3 linked regions of the Homo sapiens genome follow. The protein of the gene in region 1 interacts with the protein of each later gene in a pairwise test. Each region holds a gene or a part of one and is shown in the gene's direction. Other genes may lie near its edges.

The links.
Region 2: the proteins of TBX19 (region 1) and GCM2 interact in binary tests that used the Homo sapiens proteins (3 or more experiments, as listed by UniProt).
Region 3: the proteins of TBX19 (region 1) and IRX6 interact in binary tests that used the Homo sapiens proteins (3 or more experiments, as listed by UniProt).

Annotation. Positions count from the first base shown.
Region 1 is NC_000001.11:168,311,842-168,315,016, forward strand, and holds the end of TBX19 (T-box transcription factor TBX19), read left to right. Parts: intron 1-866; coding exon 867-1,161; 3' UTR 1,162-2,585; downstream 2,586-3,175. UniProt on the Homo sapiens protein: Transcriptional regulator involved in developmental processes. Can activate POMC gene expression and repress the alpha glycoprotein subunit and thyroid-stimulating hormone beta promoters.
Region 2 is NC_000006.12:10,872,701-10,879,144, reverse strand, and holds the end of GCM2 (chorion-specific transcription factor GCMb), read left to right. Parts: intron 1-1,752; coding exon 1,753-2,005; intron 2,006-2,587; coding exon 2,588-2,700; intron 2,701-3,128; coding exon 3,129-3,254; intron 3,255-4,211; coding exon 4,212-5,150; 3' UTR 5,151-5,922; downstream 5,923-6,444. UniProt on the Homo sapiens protein: Transcription factor that binds specific sequences on gene promoters and activate their transcription. Through the regulation of gene transcription, may play a role in parathyroid gland development.
Region 3 is NC_000016.10:55,319,481-55,327,202, forward strand, and holds the start of IRX6 (iroquois-class homeodomain protein IRX-6), read left to right. Parts: upstream 1-4,722; 5' UTR 4,723-5,611; coding exon 5,612-5,656; intron 5,657-6,855; coding exon 6,856-7,113; intron 7,114-7,722. UniProt on the Homo sapiens protein: Transcription factor. Binds to the iroquois binding site (IBS) motif of target genes to regulate gene expression; functions as a transcriptional activator or repressor. Modulates expression of RCVRN, VSX1, BHLHE22/BHLHB5 and TACR3/Nk3r.

The DNA of each region.
Region 1 (3,175 bases):
TTAAAAAAATCCTCGTACTCAGGCTGCATGCCAGATCAGTTCAATCAGAATCTCTGGGGCAGGGGAGTGGGGTGAGAGTGGGATCCAGGCACCAATATTACTTTAAAAACCCCCCCTAGTGATTCCAATGTGCCGAATGTGCAATCAAGTGTGTGAACCTGTGCTACAGAACTAGAGAAGGCAAAGAAAATGTTGTAGCTCCCAGCCTTTCAGCCAGGCACCAGAGCTCACAGGCGGAGACCAGGAATGGAAGAATTAATGTTAACAACCACCATTTACTGAGTACTACATGCTAAGGACCATATACTCCTCTTATTTAATCCTTGTAGCAATCTCTGTAAGGTAGGTAAAATTATGAATCCACATCTTGAAGATGAGAAATTGACACTCAGAGATATTAAATAATCTAGCCAAGGCCACAGAGCTAATTAAGTGGTAGAGCTGGGATTTAAACTTAAGTCTTCTGACAGTGATGTTTCCTGGTTATTATGCCACATTGGCCAGGGAGAGATCATATGCAGAAATCATACAGTTTTAATACCTTTTTTTCTACTGCCCTGCCAATTTTACATAGGCTGCAAGGGAGCCCAGATAAATGAAATTCTGTGTCTAAAACCAAATAATTCGCTGGTGGCCGGGCCAGTACCAGAATACTTAATCTTATCATTATTCCACCATACTTTGCTGCTTCTCTTAGCTTTTCTGCAGAAACAGGACCAATCTGCGTCATAGCTAGAAATAAAGCCATGGCCAGAAGCCCTCCTGTAACCATGCCCTTCTCAGCACTGTGTACATGCTTGTCAGGTGGCACTCCTTCCTTGGAGTGCCAGTGAACATTCCCTTCCCCTCTTTCTCTGTCTCTGCAGCCCCTACCCGTGCCTGTGGACCATCAGCAATGGTGCCGGAGGCCCCAGTGGGCCAGGCCCGGAGGTGCACGCCAGCACCCCAGGAGCATTTCTCCTCGGAAACCCAGCTGTGACTTCACCCCCTTCTGTGCTCTCCACCCAAGCACCCACTTCGGCTGGTGTGGAGGTTCTGGGGGAGCCCTCGCTAACCAGCATTGCTGTGTCCACCTGGACAGCAGTGGCCTCGCATCCCTTCGCGGGCTGGGGTGGCCCAGGAGCGGGTGGGCACCATTCTCCTTCCTCACTGGATGGTTAAGCAGGATCCTAGGAGCCTCTTTGCACAGCGATCCTTCCATGTGTAGAGTGCTTAGAAACCCCATCAACTGATCTAGTGAGTCAGACTGTGGAATCTCCCTTCCCACTAGCTGGAGGTGGAGGTGGGTTATTACAGAAGTCATACTGGGAGAGGGTTCAGTTTGGATGATGCTAGTTAGATCATTTGCATCTCTCCACCATTTTCTTCTGCACTCCCATTTTCTCTGCAGCTTATTCTTGCCATGCTTAGGTGACAGAAGTTTGTTAAGTACCATCCTTGTGCCCTGCCTCTTATTCTCAAATCGTTCTGGAAAGCCTCACTTCCTTTTCTGTGGAGAAGGTGCAAAGCTGTTAAATGAGCTCAGAGTTTACCTAGCTAAGGCCACTGCTTCCTGCTTTGTGAAGCCTGGAAAGTATGTGTGGCCACAGGGCTCAGGTTCACACTTCTGCTTTGAGACCAGGATGGGGTGTAAGCCATAGAGTAAGGTTAACAAAAAGAATAAAGCTAATCATGTATTACAAACAGCAGTGTGCCCAGACTTGTGGAAATGAAGTCATGTCACTCCTCTGCTCAGAAACCTTCAATGGTTCACCATTACCAGTGGAATGAAGTCAATTCTCCTCACTATAACTGGGTGTGGTAGTTTAAGCCTATAATCTCAGCCCTTTTGGAGGCCAAGGTAAGAGGATCGCTTGAGGTCAGGAGTTCGAGACCAGCTTGTGCAACAAAGTGAGAGCCTGTCTCTACAAAAAATAGTCATGCACACAAAATTAGCTGGGCATGGTGGCCTGTGCCTATAGTCCCAACTACTTAGAGGAGGATCGCTTGATCTCAGGAGGTTGAGGCTGCAGTGAATTATGATTGTGGCATTGCACTCCAGCCTGGGTGGTAGATCAAGGCTTTGTTTCATTTGAAAAAAAAGAAAGAAAGAAAGAAAGAAAGAAATCCTACTACGAGCGATCACACCATCTGGCCTGAAACCACTTCCCCAGCTTAGGTCCCTCTGTTATCCTGTTGGCCTCCTATGTATTGGTCAAGGCAGGCATCTCTGTTCTCTGAACATTCATTGCACTTTCCCACCTCTATACCTTGCCTGTGCCTTAGTGTCCTCTTTTTTCCAGTTCACCTGTGCGAATCCGACCCACCTCCCAGAGCCTGGCTGAAACGTCACTCCCTGCATCCAACATCTGATCTGCTGAGATATGTCTGATCTATCTCTGCTCGCTGTTCTCCCGTTGTTTTTGCCTCTGCCATAGAGCTCACCTCATTTTGCCTTGTATTTTTGTTACCTGTGAGTGTGTCTCTCCCTATTAGACTGTAAGCCTCTCGAGGGTGAGGCCTAGCCTTCTTGTCTTTGTAACCCACAGCAGCTGGTACTGTGCCTTGCCTATTGTAGGTGCCCAATAAACATTTGCTGAACTGAATTGGTGTAATGTGCATGTGTGCTACAAGGACGGTGTGAAGTGGCTGGGGGGCAGATCTCAGAGACACATGCCCCATGACACATAGGTGCATCCGTGTGGGAGCCTAGGAACATGCTGGCTGTTAGTTACACGGGCTTCTCATCTGAGGCACCACCAATTGTCAGTGAATGACAATCATATATGGAGACAGGGTGTGTTAGAGTGGTTATTCCCAAATACTGGTTCTTGGATCCCCTAAGTCAGGATCACCTGGAACAGGGGACCCTTGCTAGACATACAGATTCGTGGGTATACCCCGTACCTGTTGGATCAGAATCTTTGGGGCTGGCGTTCAGGAATCTGCATTTCAAACAAGAGCTCCAGGCATTGGCCCTGGGCTAGGTTTGGAAACTCCTTGCCTAGAAGAGAGAAACAGGATGATAAATACTCCAGGAACCTTATTTCAGATGAGTTTTTACCTCTGCCCCAGCCAAGGTCATTGCTATAACCCGTGAGCAGAATCAGTTTCGTGAGTCTTCCTCCTCTTTTTCTACCTACTACTGGATGTGCTAATAACCTTGGGAGTGAGGTTTCCAGACCTGGGTGATGAG
Region 2 (6,444 bases), on another chromosome or scaffold:
CAATTGTAATATTTCAGAGAAAAGATAAATAATACCTATGGTAGTAATAATGATTTCAACAATATCTTTGTAATTTTGGAAACAAAATCACCCATTAACCTTATTACTGTTAGAATGTGCAGTATTAATGATGTATACAAGTCTGAATTTTCCAACTGTGAATACTTCAGCTTTGCAAATGTTTGATCTAATTTTCCTGAGTGGCAAGAGTGGGGAGGAGATGCAAATGGCTTACTGCTATTATACACTCTTCTGAGCCTTTATTACACCAGCAAAGCTACTGGGTCTGGCTGCTACCCATCTTCTGTTTATATTCCAGCTATGCCACTGTGAAAGGTTATCTATTGAACCTCCACTTCCTTATTTAGTAAACAAGAGTAAAGATGTCCATCTTGCAAAGATGTTGTGAGAATTATATATATTGCATAATATGGCTTTGCAGGTCATACTGTTTCTGTTCCAAATATTCAATTCTGCACTGTAGTGTGAAAGCAGCCCTAAACATTACATAAAAGAAAGTGCTCAGTGGCCGGGCATGGTGGCTTATGCCTGTAATCCCAGCACTTTGGGAGGCCAAGGTGGGTGGATCATGAGGTCAGGAAGATCAAGACCATCCTGGCCAACATGGTGAAACCCCATCTCTACTAAAAATACAAACAATAGCCAGGCGTGGTGGCATGCACCTATAGTCCCAGGTAGTCAGGAGGCTGAGGCAGGAGAATCACTTGAACCTGGGAGGCGGAGGTTGCAGTGAGCTGAGATCATGCTACTACACTCCAGCCTGGGTGACAGAGTGAGATTCCATCTCAAAAAAAAGAAAAAAGGAAGTGCTCAGTAAAGGGTGATTTTTCAATGAAACTTATATGCAAAAGTGACATTTATTGCAGTGTAAATAATGCATTAAATTGACAAAGACTACCAAATATGAATACTAAGGCAATGCTCAGTATTTTAGATACAACTTATTATTGCAGCCATGTGGCTCTTTGTTGAGGAGAATGACAGTCCCATATTGCTCTGGGGAGCAGTCCCGTGCCAGACAAGCTCACCCACACCCCAAAGCTCATGGCTTAAGTCCCTCATTGCAGTACCCTTTTAAACTTGGAGAGCCAAGTTGAGAGTAGGGAGGGAAGCTGTTCTTTCCTCTCTGACATTACTCTGGGTGCCACTGCTAATGTGACTGACAGGTTTGGCATACAGAGCCAAGTGCTTTTGAAGAAAATGCACTGACTTAAAGATATTTACCAGTTAAATTGCATTTCAGTGATAGAACATTCCAATCACTTTTTCCCCTGGTACTTTGATACCTAACTTAAAAATGTTTTCAACATTTAAACACACCAAGAAGTGATATAACATAGTGGTAAGAAGTACAGGCTCTGGAATGGGACTGCCAGGGTGCAAATCCTGGATCCAGATCTTGCTAGCTGTGTGATGTGACCTTGGGCGAGTCGATTAACCTCTCTGGCCTCCATGTCCTCATCGGCAAATTGGAAATAATTGTTTGCCTATAATTTGAAGTCTAGATGAACTAATACATGTATAGCATTTAACAGATAAGCACTATATAAACATTAATTATTACCTGGTTGTCAGGAAGTCTTACATAGAAAGAGTGGCATTTTGGAATTTGACGTTACTGGATTTAAAAAGAACTGGTTTGTATCCTAATGTGCTCAGAGAAATTTTAGAGCATGATGTGTGCAGTTTGGACTGGATAGACTGACCACCCTTCCTTCTGCACTCTTCCAGGAGCTGGCCCTCTTTGACCAATTCCGAGAGTGGCCTGACGGCTATGTGCGCTTCATCTACAGCAGCGATGAGAAGAAGGCACAGCGTCACCTGAGCGGCTGGGCCATGCGCAACACCAACAACCACAATGGCCACATCCTCAAGAAGTCGTGCCTGGGTGTGGTGGTGTGTACACAGGCCTGCACCCTGCCCGACGGTTCCCGCCTGCAGCTGAGGCCGGCCATCTGCGACAAGGCACGGCTGAAACAGCAGAGTGAGGACATGGGGCCAGGGAGAGGGTGACCTTGGAGTCATGAGTTTTTTGTTGTTGTTGTTTTTGTTTGTTTGTTTGAGATGGAGCCTCACTCTGTCACTCAGGCTGGACTGCAATGGTGCAATCTCAGCTCACTGCAACCTCCGCCTCCCGGGTTCAAGCGATCCTCCTGCCTCAGCCTCCCAAGTAGCTGGGATTACAGGCATGCGCCACCACGCCCGGCTAATTTTGCATTTTTAGTAGAGACAGGGTTTCTCCATGTTGGTCAGGCTGGTCTTGAACTCCCGACATCAGGTGATCTGCCTGTCTCGGCCTCCCAAAGTGCTGGGATTAGAGGCGTGAGCCACCACACCCGGCTAATTTTGTATTTTTAGTAGAGACAAGGTTTCTCCATGTTGGTCAGGCTGGTCTTGAACTCCTGACCTCAAGTGATCCACCCGCCTCGGCCTCCCAAAGTGCTGGGATTACAGGCGTGAGCCACCGCGCCCGAGCATGAGTTCTTTGTTCCCAGCTAATTTTCCCCTTCTTCCTTCAGAAGGGTCTGGGGTCAGGGTTAATATTTCTCCCTTCTGGGCTTTGCAGAGAAGGCATGCCCTAACTGTCATTCTGCTTTGGAGTTGATTCCTTGTCGAGGGCACAGCGGATACCCCGTAACCAACTTTTGGCGGCTTGATGGCAACGCGATCTTTTTTCAGGTAGGTCAGGTGAGAACACAATTTGTGATGGATACTTTTCATCAGACCACAAAGGCCAAACCACCTGTCGTGTGCCTTGGGAACCCTGGGCCAAACAAAATACAGCCCCAGTGGCCAGAAATAGGTGCTGGAGCTCCCCAGGGACCTAGCGGGAGCCTAGAAATTCACTCACTACTTTGTGCTCTTTAAGGTACACAGATGGTAAACCAAGTTATAGTTCTTTTAATAGAGTGAAGGGATTGCAGGTGATCTTTTCAGATGTCAATTCTTGAGCCTGTTTTATTTGTTCAAGAATTTTTTTTTCTGTCATTTTGAAAGAAACAAAACTAAACTCTTGAGATGTTGGGAAAGGCATGATCAATTTTTGGGCAACATTGTCAGCTTCCTTTAGAGGCACAAATGTATGATTCATTTTCTCGTTATCGCAGGCCAAGGGAGTTCATGATCATCCAAGACCAGAGAGCAAATCAGAGACAGAAGCTAGAAGAAGCGCCATCAAGAGACAAATGGCCTCTTTCTACCAACCCCAGAAAAAGAGAATTCGAGAATCCGAGGTAACAGGGAGCTGATAGTGCACAGTGGTCTCAGCTCATTTTCATCCCAAGATACGCTGATCGTTATGCAAAATATGAAGGTCATACGTTAATTACAAGGGTTTGATTTCATCTGAAAATTATACGTCTGTAACAAAATATCATTAAATCAACATTTGGACAGGGTTTCTAATCCCTTCTCCTTAAAACAAAAAGCAACAATCTCTACAGGCAATGATACAGTCCTGATATGTCAGTGTGCTGAGCTGACATCCTAATATAAGGGCGATTATGCAACAGTAATAAAGATAGAAATATGTGCCTACCAACAGGAAGTTAACAGTGCACCCTTGAGAGGGTCCTTTCCATTATTTCATCCACAAGAATGGATAAAATTTCTCTGCGCAATTTAATTCAGTTTGGCTTTTCAACCAAAGCACGCCAAGCAGGCAGAGTGTTAGTGTAAGGATAACAGAAGCTGACATTTTCCAGCACTTCCTATGTGCCAGGCACTGGTCTAAGAGTTTCACACATTTAATGGTTGCAGAAACCTTATAATGAGGTTACTGTTATTAAGTTCCATTTTTAAGATGAAGGATCTGAGGCTCAGAGAGGTTAAGTGGCTTGTACAATTTGTGAGGGACAGAGTCAGGAATTGAACCCAGGCCCGTGTGGCTCCTAAGTCTCCACTATTAGGAAGACAGTATAGGTGAGAACAGGACCATCTGCCACTCAGAAGCATCCTACCTGGCTACCATGGACCTTTGTCATTCAGTCGTTGGTATTTATGTCTGAGTGAGCCCAAGCTTAGCAACCCCTGGACCACGTGCTTACATCACGTACCTGAGCAGTGCCATGTTCACAACACAGAGCCCAGCACATGGATGTCTGTTTTTACTTACTTCTAGGCTATTGTTACAGGTGAGGGTGTCCACACGATTTACATAGCGTGTGTCTATGTTTGTATCATTTTTCTAGGCAGAAGAAAATCAAGACAGCAGTGGTCATTTCAGCAACATACCTCCCTTGGAAAATCCAGAAGACTTTGATATAGTTACTGAAACCAGCTTCCCTATTCCAGGGCAGCCTTGCCCTTCCTTCCCAAAGTCTGATGTTTACAAAGCTACCTGTGACCTAGCCACCTTTCAAGGAGACAAAATGCCACCCTTCCAGAAATACTCAAGCCCAAGAATCTATTTGCCTAGGCCACCTTGCAGCTATGAATTGGCAAACCCTGGTTATACAAATTCAAGCCCATATCCCACCCTTTATAAGGATTCCACCAGTATCCCTAATGACACAGACTGGGTTCATCTGAACACACTACAATGTAATGTCAATTCATACAGCAGCTATGAGAGAAGCTTTGATTTCACCAACAAACAGCATGGCTGGAAACCAGCTCTTGGAAAACCCAGCCTTGTGGAAAGGACTAACCATGGGCAGTTTCAGGCCATGGCCACTCGCCCTTATTATAACCCAGAGCTTCCCTGCAGGTACCTCACGACTCCACCACCAGGTGCCCCTGCCCTACAAACCGTGATCACCACCACCACTAAAGTGTCCTACCAGGCCTACCAGCCCCCTGCTATGAAATACAGTGACAGTGTGCGAGAGGTGAAGAGCCTTTCGAGCTGTAACTATGCTCCTGAAGATACTGGGATGTCTGTCTATCCAGAACCCTGGGGTCCTCCGGTGACAGTCACCAGGGCAGCCTCTCCTTCAGGGCCACCTCCTATGAAAATTGCAGGAGATTGCCGGGCCATCAGACCCACTGTGGCTATTCCCCACGAGCCAGTTTCCTCTAGGACAGATGAAGCAGAGACTTGGGATGTGTGTCTGTCTGGGCTGGGCTCCGCAGTCAGTTACTCAGACAGAGTGGGTCCCTTCTTTACCTACAACAATGAGGATTTTTGAAAGACAATCCAGGGGACATAATAGCAGTGTGCATGCAGGCAGGAGGCAGGGAAATGTGAAATGGCAATGATCTCTTATTGAGTTGGGAGATTCACCTTGTGTGCAAAGAAACACAGATAGTAGTAAAAATTCTGAGTAACTGAGAAAATAATCAGTTGGAAATGATTAGATAATATGGGAAATTTCACACAGCATTTTGAAACTGGCTACAATACATAGAAGTAGTGAGGAAAGTGTGAGTCTCTCAAATGAACAAATAAGCAAACTGTAGGAGGTTAAATACTGACCTAAGTTCACTTAGCTTATTAGCAGGAGTAGAAGTCAAGGATTCTGGTTCTTATTCTAGGACTTTTCCCATTAGAGCACCTTAGGGAATTTCACATCCCTAGAGGCTGCCAAAATAGCTTCAGGAAGAAATTTTTACAATCTTATCACCTGAGTCATTTCATGAAATTTTTGTTTAGCATTTAGAACCTGTTAAACTAGCTTCAGGAAGTAATTTTGATTGTTTTATCTCCAACGTGTGTATCTACAGCTTTTCAAAAAATCTCTAGCAATGGTAAAGTTCAGTTGTTTTTAAAAGATTCAATATTAGCTTTTCATAACATGATAGTTTCCTAACCTTTTCATAACCTTTTCATAACATGATAGTTTCCATAACAGAGACAGCCTAACAATGATGAGTTGTATTTAATGGATTACCATTGTACTAAATACATTTTTTTTCTGATTAGGTTTCAGAATTATAATTAAAATGTTTTGCTGAAATACAGCTTTACGGTTCCTCTGTTATTCTTCATAAAGGTAATTGATAATGTTCAATTAAATGTAATAAGGACATTTTAAATGAAGCTAATTCTTGCCTGACTTCAAAACAGAAATAGGAAAAAAATTGTTCATATTATGACCTGGGAAACAGTTGTTATGAAACATTAAAACTTATTAAATTGGCTGAGAGAGGTGGCTCACGCCTGTAATCCCAACACTTTGGGAGACCAAGGCAGGAGGATTGCTTGAGCCCAGGAGTTTGAGACCAGCCTGGGCAACAGGGAGAGCCCTCATCTCTGGGCAACAGAGAGAGACCCCAGGGCATGGCAGTGGGCCTGTGGTTCTAACTACTTGGGAAGCTGAGGTGGGAGGATCATTTGAACCCACGAGGTCAAGGCTGCAGTCAGCCATCTTTGTGCTACTGCACTCCAGCTTGGGCAACAGAGCAAGACCCTGTCTCAAAAAAATAAATAAATAAATAAATAAATAAAACAAGTATTAAATAGTTTGACTGTTTTGTAGTTTA
Region 3 (7,722 bases), on another chromosome or scaffold:
GGGGGAAGATGACAAAATATCCTTATAAACTCCATGTTAGCAATGCTTCAGTTAGAGGGCTGTTTGCAACAACATACAGCCCCTCCTGTAGCTGAAGCCAGCAACACCATGGCTCCCTTTCTTGATTGTCTAGGCCATGATTCTATTTCCTAATTGTATACTGAAGGACCATTTCTAGGTCCTATCACATAGGGAGAAAGGGGCATAGCATCTTATCCCGGTGAGTCCCTATGTGTTATTCCTTTAAAGTCTTAATTTCTTACATGCATTTCTTTTCGAAAGACTTAGGCTTCAAAAATTGTTCCCTGGTTTTCAAATCCATACATCTGTTGTTTACTTTAAAGTTTAATTCCTTGAAAACACATCAGATGCCTTGAGCTTTTCATTAGAAAGATGCCGTCATCTACAGGATAAAAATAATCAAGAATTTTTATACATAAAAACTGCTTTGAAAATGAGAAGTTAATGCAGCAAATCTCCCCACCTGCTGATGCCAAAACCAGATTTTTTAAAAATTCCTCTTCCTGAAAATAGTCCGTAACTAATTTCAAGGAGTTGTTTTTAAACCATTGTAGAAATAGAGACATTATCTTTTGGCTGGAATTTTTTTTTTTTGAAGATTTTTTTTTCGGCAGGGGAGTGGTGCTATTTTGGTTTTTTGTATGTTTTTATCAGTCATGGCTGGGTCTGTTTGCTCTTTGCCATTCAATTAATGATTCGCACCAAATTTCTAAAACTCCCAATTACTACATAAGCTCTTTCATAATACACAGTCACATCAAACAGGGGGTATAGACCCTGAACTTAATTTTCTTACAGTGACATCTCTTTAAGATTTTTTCTCTGCTAAATTATACTGCATCATCATGGCACACACTATGTGAATTCACACAGTCCAACTGGAGTTAGCAATATCTCCTGGCTGTGATTGGCTTTCTATATGTTTGAAATATGGTTCTGTGAAAAGACCCAGAATCAGGAGGTCTGAAGTCTGATCCTTCCTCTGCCACTTACTTGGCTGTGTGATCTTAGACTTGCTTCTCACCTCTCCAATATCCTTATCATGAGCCTTAAATAAGATAAAGCAGAGGTGTTTAGGAAAGCTCCCAAGCACTCAACAAATGCTACAGAATTTTACTATTATTAACACACTTTATTAATTTTAACTCTAAACTGAAGTACAATGCTGTCAAACCAAGACCTCTTCATTCAGTCTTATTTTTTACTTTATCCCGAAGAAGTTAATTCTTTCTTTCTATTTGGCACCTTTTTGACAAGAGGCTTCAACACTCTCATCTGGGAATTATTGTCTTTTTATTTTCCCCTCCTGATGCCAGAGTTGCTGTTGACAATATGTATTCAGGCAAGGCAGGGACTCACTGCATTTCACAATCAGATGCCATGCACACTACTTCCGTCAAAACAATTAGTGTTCATTTCGGCTTTACTCCATGAGACCTGCGGTGACTGATCAGTATAAATTATAGATGCATCTGTCCAGATGCACTTGTTCATTCATGCATAGATTTGAGGAAATTTCATTCTTCTCAGTTCAAAAACAGTCACTAAAAAATCCATACTTAAAAAATATAATTTAGCACATCTTCAACTCTGTTATTATGTTCGTGTACTCGCTCATTCCATCTGGGATTTGAGGCATTTGAAGTTGATTTGGGGCATTTCCAGGTTGTTATATTTCCCCCTGTAAAATCTGCTGTCTTTATAAATCATTAGAAAATCATAGACTTTTTTAACCCAAAATAATGAAATACAGTTTGTTTTTCCTCTTTTATTGTTTGTTTGTTTTTTGTGGTACCTGCATGCAAGCTTATTGTGAAACATACATACTTTACTCCGCCTGCTCAGGAACTTCAGTGCATTTGAAGCAAAGCAATAAGAGCTTCAAATAAACAATGTGGATTAGTACTCTCTGGTACACATAGGCTTTTGATTGTTTAATTTGTTTCACATTTGTTTTAATGAGCAGCTAGAGGAACTATCAGGCATGTTGCACAGTACAACAAAAGAATCTCTATCATTTGTTTAAAATACTTTAGGTGGAATGACTCCCTTAAATATAACTGGGAGGGTCTATATTTGATGGATTTATTTACTTGCTTCAATAAAATTCTATGTGTACACATATACAATTGGGGCTTTTTCTCCGAAACTAAATTAATCAGTGCTGAACAAAGCAATGAAAAGCTGCCGGGGTGGAGAAGCCCAAGGCTGCTGAAGTGGGAGTCTGTGAACCGTCAGGAGGACAAAAGCAAATTCCACTGCAGCTTCCCCTCAATCAGATTTTCCAAGAAACAGACATCTTCTCACCTGAGGTTTCTGCCAGACAGAGGTTGATATTGGCTTAACCCACTGGCATTGTTTTGTTACGAGGGTCCCAAAATAACAAGAAGAGTAGGCACATTTCATAAAAACCATTTTTAGGAAACCCCATTAAATGCTCAAGGTGGTAACAATCAAATGTCAGCAAAACAGGGGAGGTTTACCGTGGGTGCAGCCTCTCCCTGGGAAGGAAATGTTAAATCAAGGTCTTGCAAGGCTGGGAAGCCGGAGGAGACATGGCAGGCCTTCCTCCCTGGGAAGTATTCTGATAGAAGCTGCAAAAAACCATCAAGCAACTTTGAGGACAATAGAAAAGGTGTCTTAACATAAAACCTGCTCTTTTGTTTGTTCGCTTGTCTTTCCAGAAGAAGAAAAATGCCAAGATATCTTCATAGTCCTACTTCCCAATTTTCTTCCCCACTGTTCCTCAACATCCTCTTTTCTTTTTAAAAAATTGTGTTGCTTTTCTCAAATCCTAGAGAGCAAAGACAAGAAGTAGGCCTGGAGGCCCTGCACACAGCATTGATAAAACAGAGGTCTTATAAATCAGCTAAAAATCAATAATTCCTATATGGTAGTTTCTCCTTTGCAACCATATCGCCAAGGGACAGGGCTAATGCTTTTTCTCCACCACCAGCCCCATTTTTCTGTCATAAAATTTTTAAAAAAAATTCTGCTTAGGAACAAATGGGCAATCGAAGTTGCTGAGTCAGTATTTCTACTATCTAATTTTATTACTTTACAATTGACATACCTTCCCTCTGGAAATGTTTGCAATTAATTAATTAGCAGTAATCTTCCCCAAGGGATGAATTTAATGAATACTCTCCAATTCTTACTTTAAAAAAATAGCATAGATGTATCCAAGCTGCAAATGTGTGGATAGTTCCAAAGTGCATTTTGAAAAATCAAGGGATCTATCTATTACTGTGAATTTTTATCACTAAGTCAATCTGGTGAGGACTATAATTCTTTTTCTAACTAGGAGTTTCCCTGGATGAACGCAAGGTTTCTCCAAGGTAACAGCAGCAGCAGCAGCAGCAGTAGCTGTGTTTGTTAGTATTTAGAATGGAGCTTGTCCTCATGTTAACAATCTCTTAAGCAGAGGAGTCTCTGGTTTGTGGCTTAAGCTCCTTGAGCATTCTGCAGAATGTGTTTTTAAAACGGGGTGTGGGGACCTAGAGATGTCATGCTAAAGAGATCAGTGTAAGGTGCTAGTGGCAAACTTGGAGTTGAGGTACGCCCCGTCCAGGACCCCAGACCTTGCCCCGCCTCATACAAGAACCCAGAGCCGTTGCTATCTTCTGGGCCACAGGCTCTCGCGTTTCAACTAGAAAATAAAACTGGGCCCTTGAACCAACCCCTATGGCTCCTTGGAGGAGTTGCAGCAAGAGCCTGGTGCAACTTTAAAAGTATAAAGCGCTTTTAAAAGTATAAAGCGCGGTGACCCCGGTAAGTGAAAGGCAAGGCTTTCTGAGGTTTCTGGCCTGCAAATCCCACTGGATTCCTGCAGTGCCCACCGAAGACCTTCCCCTACCAGACCGACAGTCCCTTTTCACCCCTAGACGTCGCGGGTTGGAGGCTCTCAGAAGGGCAGCTGGGGCCAGAGTACTGAGCCTTCAGATGTGCAGTCTACCGTGCTCGCAAATTGGAGGTTCCATGTCTCGGGGCCAGGCCTAGAGGAGGCAGCCCCTTCCTGGGTACCAACGAGCCTCCCCCACCCCTGCCGCCGCCCACCCATCAGTGCCCCTTTGAAGACCCCTGGGATGGAGTGAGGGGGTGGTCAGACCGCTGGGCCCAGCCGGGCGTCCAGGAGGAGCGCAGGGAATGGGCCGCCCTCCCGGAGCGCTCCACTGCGGCTCTCCAGCGCCACCCCCAGCGGAGCGCAGGGGCTGCAGCCCGGACCGGGAGCCTTCTTCAGGCTCCCTGGCTGCCCCGCGGCCACTGCGGGAGGCGCGCGCGCGAGGCAGCCAAGCCTTGCCTTCGGAGGAGATGCCCAGGGATCTTAGCAAGCAGCCTGCGGCTGCCAGGGATCGGACCTGGCGAGTTTCCCGACGGAATCTGAGGGATCCCGAACCTCGGCCTCGAGGGGGCGCTATCCGGCCTACTCGAGGACCAGGCAGCTGCAGAGAAGCTCCAAGGTCAAGGCCCTGGGCCAGGCCAGGGCTTGGAGAGCCGGAATCTAGCCCGAGTCCTGGGGAGGCTGAGGCGGGGAACCAGATCCCCGAGGACAAAGATGGGCGGGCCAGTGGGATCCACCGACGCTGCCCGGAGCTGCTCCAACGAGAGCCGGGCCTGTGGCGTGAACAAACTTTACTTCAGCGCAGGGGCGGAGGAACCGGGCTGGAGGCTTCTCCCCCGGGCCTCTGCTCTCCTCCACCTGCCAGTGCTCAGCCTCCGCCCAGCCTTCGCCCACCCCAGCTCCCTCCCCCTCCCCCACGCGCCTCTGTTCACTCAGACTCCTGTCTCCCCTCTCCCCTCCTCCTTCTCCCTCTTGCCTTTCTCCCCCACTTTTCTCCTGTCTCTTCTTTTGTATTCTCTCCTCCCTCGCCGCCCCGGTTGCCTCTCGCCTCCTCCGGGCCGCAGGGGAGGAGGTGAGCGCGCTGCGCCCGGGGCCTGCGCGGCTCAGAGGGAGGCGTTTCTCCTACTTCTCCCGGGTAATTTGGAGAGGTTGTGTGTGTGTGCGCGCGCGCGTGAGCTCCAGGCGAAAAGGGGTAGGATTCAGCGCCGAGCAGAGAGGGTCAGGGTTTTTGACGTTCCTCGCCAGCTGCACAAACCTCCCGGAGCAAGTGTGAGTGTGGGTGAGAGTGCGCGCGCGCGCACGGGCTGGCTGCGCTTGGCACGCTTGGTGGCCCAGGGTCCCGGGGCCCGGGGTCCCGTCTGGCGGCCCGGGATTACCGTGACGTCACATTGAGCCTCTGGCCACCTTGGACTGGGACACCTCCGGAGCCTCACAGCCCCGCGCCGCGCCGCGCCTCACCTCGCCACCACGCGCCTTTGGGAACCCGCATCTTCTTCCTTCCCCTGCCCATCCATGGGCCCTTCTGTCTTCCGGACCCCACGGGCCGGAGGGGCGCCTTCCGGAGCGCAGGGCTCGGCAGCCGGGCTGCCCTCGGCTCTGCCTCCACTGGGGCCAACCAGGCGAAGGAACCGGCGCTGGGCATCCGCAGCGGTGTAAGGAACTGAGACACCTCACTGCTGGGGGCGCGGAACAGCTGGGCTGAGACGGGAACTCGACAGGGAAGAGAGAGACGGGCCAGGGACAGCCACCATGTCCTTCCCACACTTTGGACACCCGTACCGCGGCGCTTCCCAGGTAAGAGGCGCCTCTATGGGGGATAGGGGACAGACTGGGTGGAGGGAGTGCCTAGTGCACGGCGCCTGCCTCTGATCATCCTCCTCTTGTGTTCTGGGGGAAGCCAGAAGGAGCAAGGACCAGGGTAATGTGTCACAGCCTCCTCTGACATCCCCAGTCCCTAAATGAGAACGTTTCACCCCGGAGTGCACGCTGGAAAATCTTGTGACCTGAAACATGAGCACTCTGACCACGCGCTCAGTGAGGTGGGTGGGATCACAGGGATCTCCCAGTCAGGCCTCCTCCTATACAGAAGTCTGAGGTGGCCGGGAGAGAAAGAAAGAAAGAAAAGAAAGAAAGAAATAAGGAAGGAAGGAAGGAAGGAAGGAAGGAAGGAAGGAAGGAAGGAAGGAAGGAGAGAGAGAGAGAGAGAGAGAGAGAGAGAGAAAGAAAGAGAAAGAAAGAAAGAAGGAAAGAAAGAAAGAAAAAGAAAGAGAAAGAAAGAACTTGTAGGCTACAACGCTGTCCATCTCACCATATTGTTGTTGATTTGTTGACCTCGGCTATTCTCCTACCCCTTCCTTGGGCGGGCCCAAGCTCTCCGGTTCCCTCGATTTTCCAAACCAAAGTGGATGTTGTGCAATGACAAGGGTTTCCTGGGAAAGTTCTGCGGACACCCCCTCCACTGTTCTCCAGCTTTTCTCTAGAGTTCTGAGTGTATTTTCCTGTTGTCTAGTGCCGGCTCGACCTTTGACCTGCTGTGTGATCTTAGACAAGTCTCACACTCTCTCTGATTATCCACTCCCAATCTATAGAATGGGAGCAGGAATGAGACGTTAATAATGGTCTCTAAGGCCACCTTCTAGCTCCGCCTTTGCAGGATCCTGGGAGGAGGGTAGGGAAGGGAGCAGAGGGTTTGGTGTCTTTAATTCCGGTTTCAAAATGTTCACATTTTCCCGGCCTCCTGGGGCTCTGGGGCCTTAGCAATGGAGTAGGAGCATCTATAAGGGCAGTTTGGTTAATTTATAATTCCCGTCCCAGCACCTAACAGAATGCTCAGCCCAGGTGGCATTTAGTTAATGCATAATGAAGGAATGAATGAAGGAGCAATCTGATTATCTGATTTTCTCTTCTTTGTTTCTAGCTCCCTTCAGCGGGAGCGGGGGCGGGGGTGGGGGGGGGGTCTCTGACCTCCAGTGCCCTCTTTCTTGCCCCTATAGTTTCTGGCGTCGGCAAGTTCCAGCACCACATGCTGCGAATCTACCCAACGCTCTGTCTCAGATGTGGCATCAGGCTCCACCCCAGCGCCCGCTCTCTGCTGCGCACCCTACGATAGTCGACTGCTGGGCAGTGCGCGACCGGAGCTGGGCGCCGCCTTGGGCATCTATGGAGCACCCTATGCGGCCGCTGCAGCTGCCCAGAGCTACCCTGGCTACCTGCCCTATAGCCCAGAGCCCCCCTCACTGTATGGGGCACTGGTGAGTACAGGGGTGGAGTCCCAGGGGAGTGAGCAGTAGAGACAGGTGAAATCCAGAGAAAGTCAAGGAAAGACCCACACCTCCCGAGGAAAGGAAATGGTTAGGACTGTGTATAAGGAGGACAAAAAAATACAGTACCTTACAGTTTGCAGAACTTCATACTGTTTAGAAAACATTTATACTTCTATTAATTCTGTGAGGTAGGCAAGTAATCATTAATCTCAATTTAAGAATGAGGAAATAGAGGTGCACAGGAGTTCAAATACTTTGCCCAATGTCACAGAGATACAAAGGGTCAGAGAAAAGCTCCTGAAGAAGATTAAAGCAGGAAGTGCCCCAGCTGGTGTGTGTTGTGGGGCAGGGGGCGGGGGGTGGGGGGCAGTAAGGGGGGAAAGGAGGGAGGGACAAGTGGTACAGTAATAACAGCAGCTAATATTTAACTACTGCTTATTCTGCACCAGGGATTCTGCCAAGCATTCTGCCAGCATGGTCTTCTTCAATAACCTATAAGTACTATTATCCCCATTTTACCAAGGAAGAAATTGAGGCACAGAGTGGTTAAGCCACTGGTTAAGCAACTGTGCCCAAGGTCACACGGCCAGTACCAGT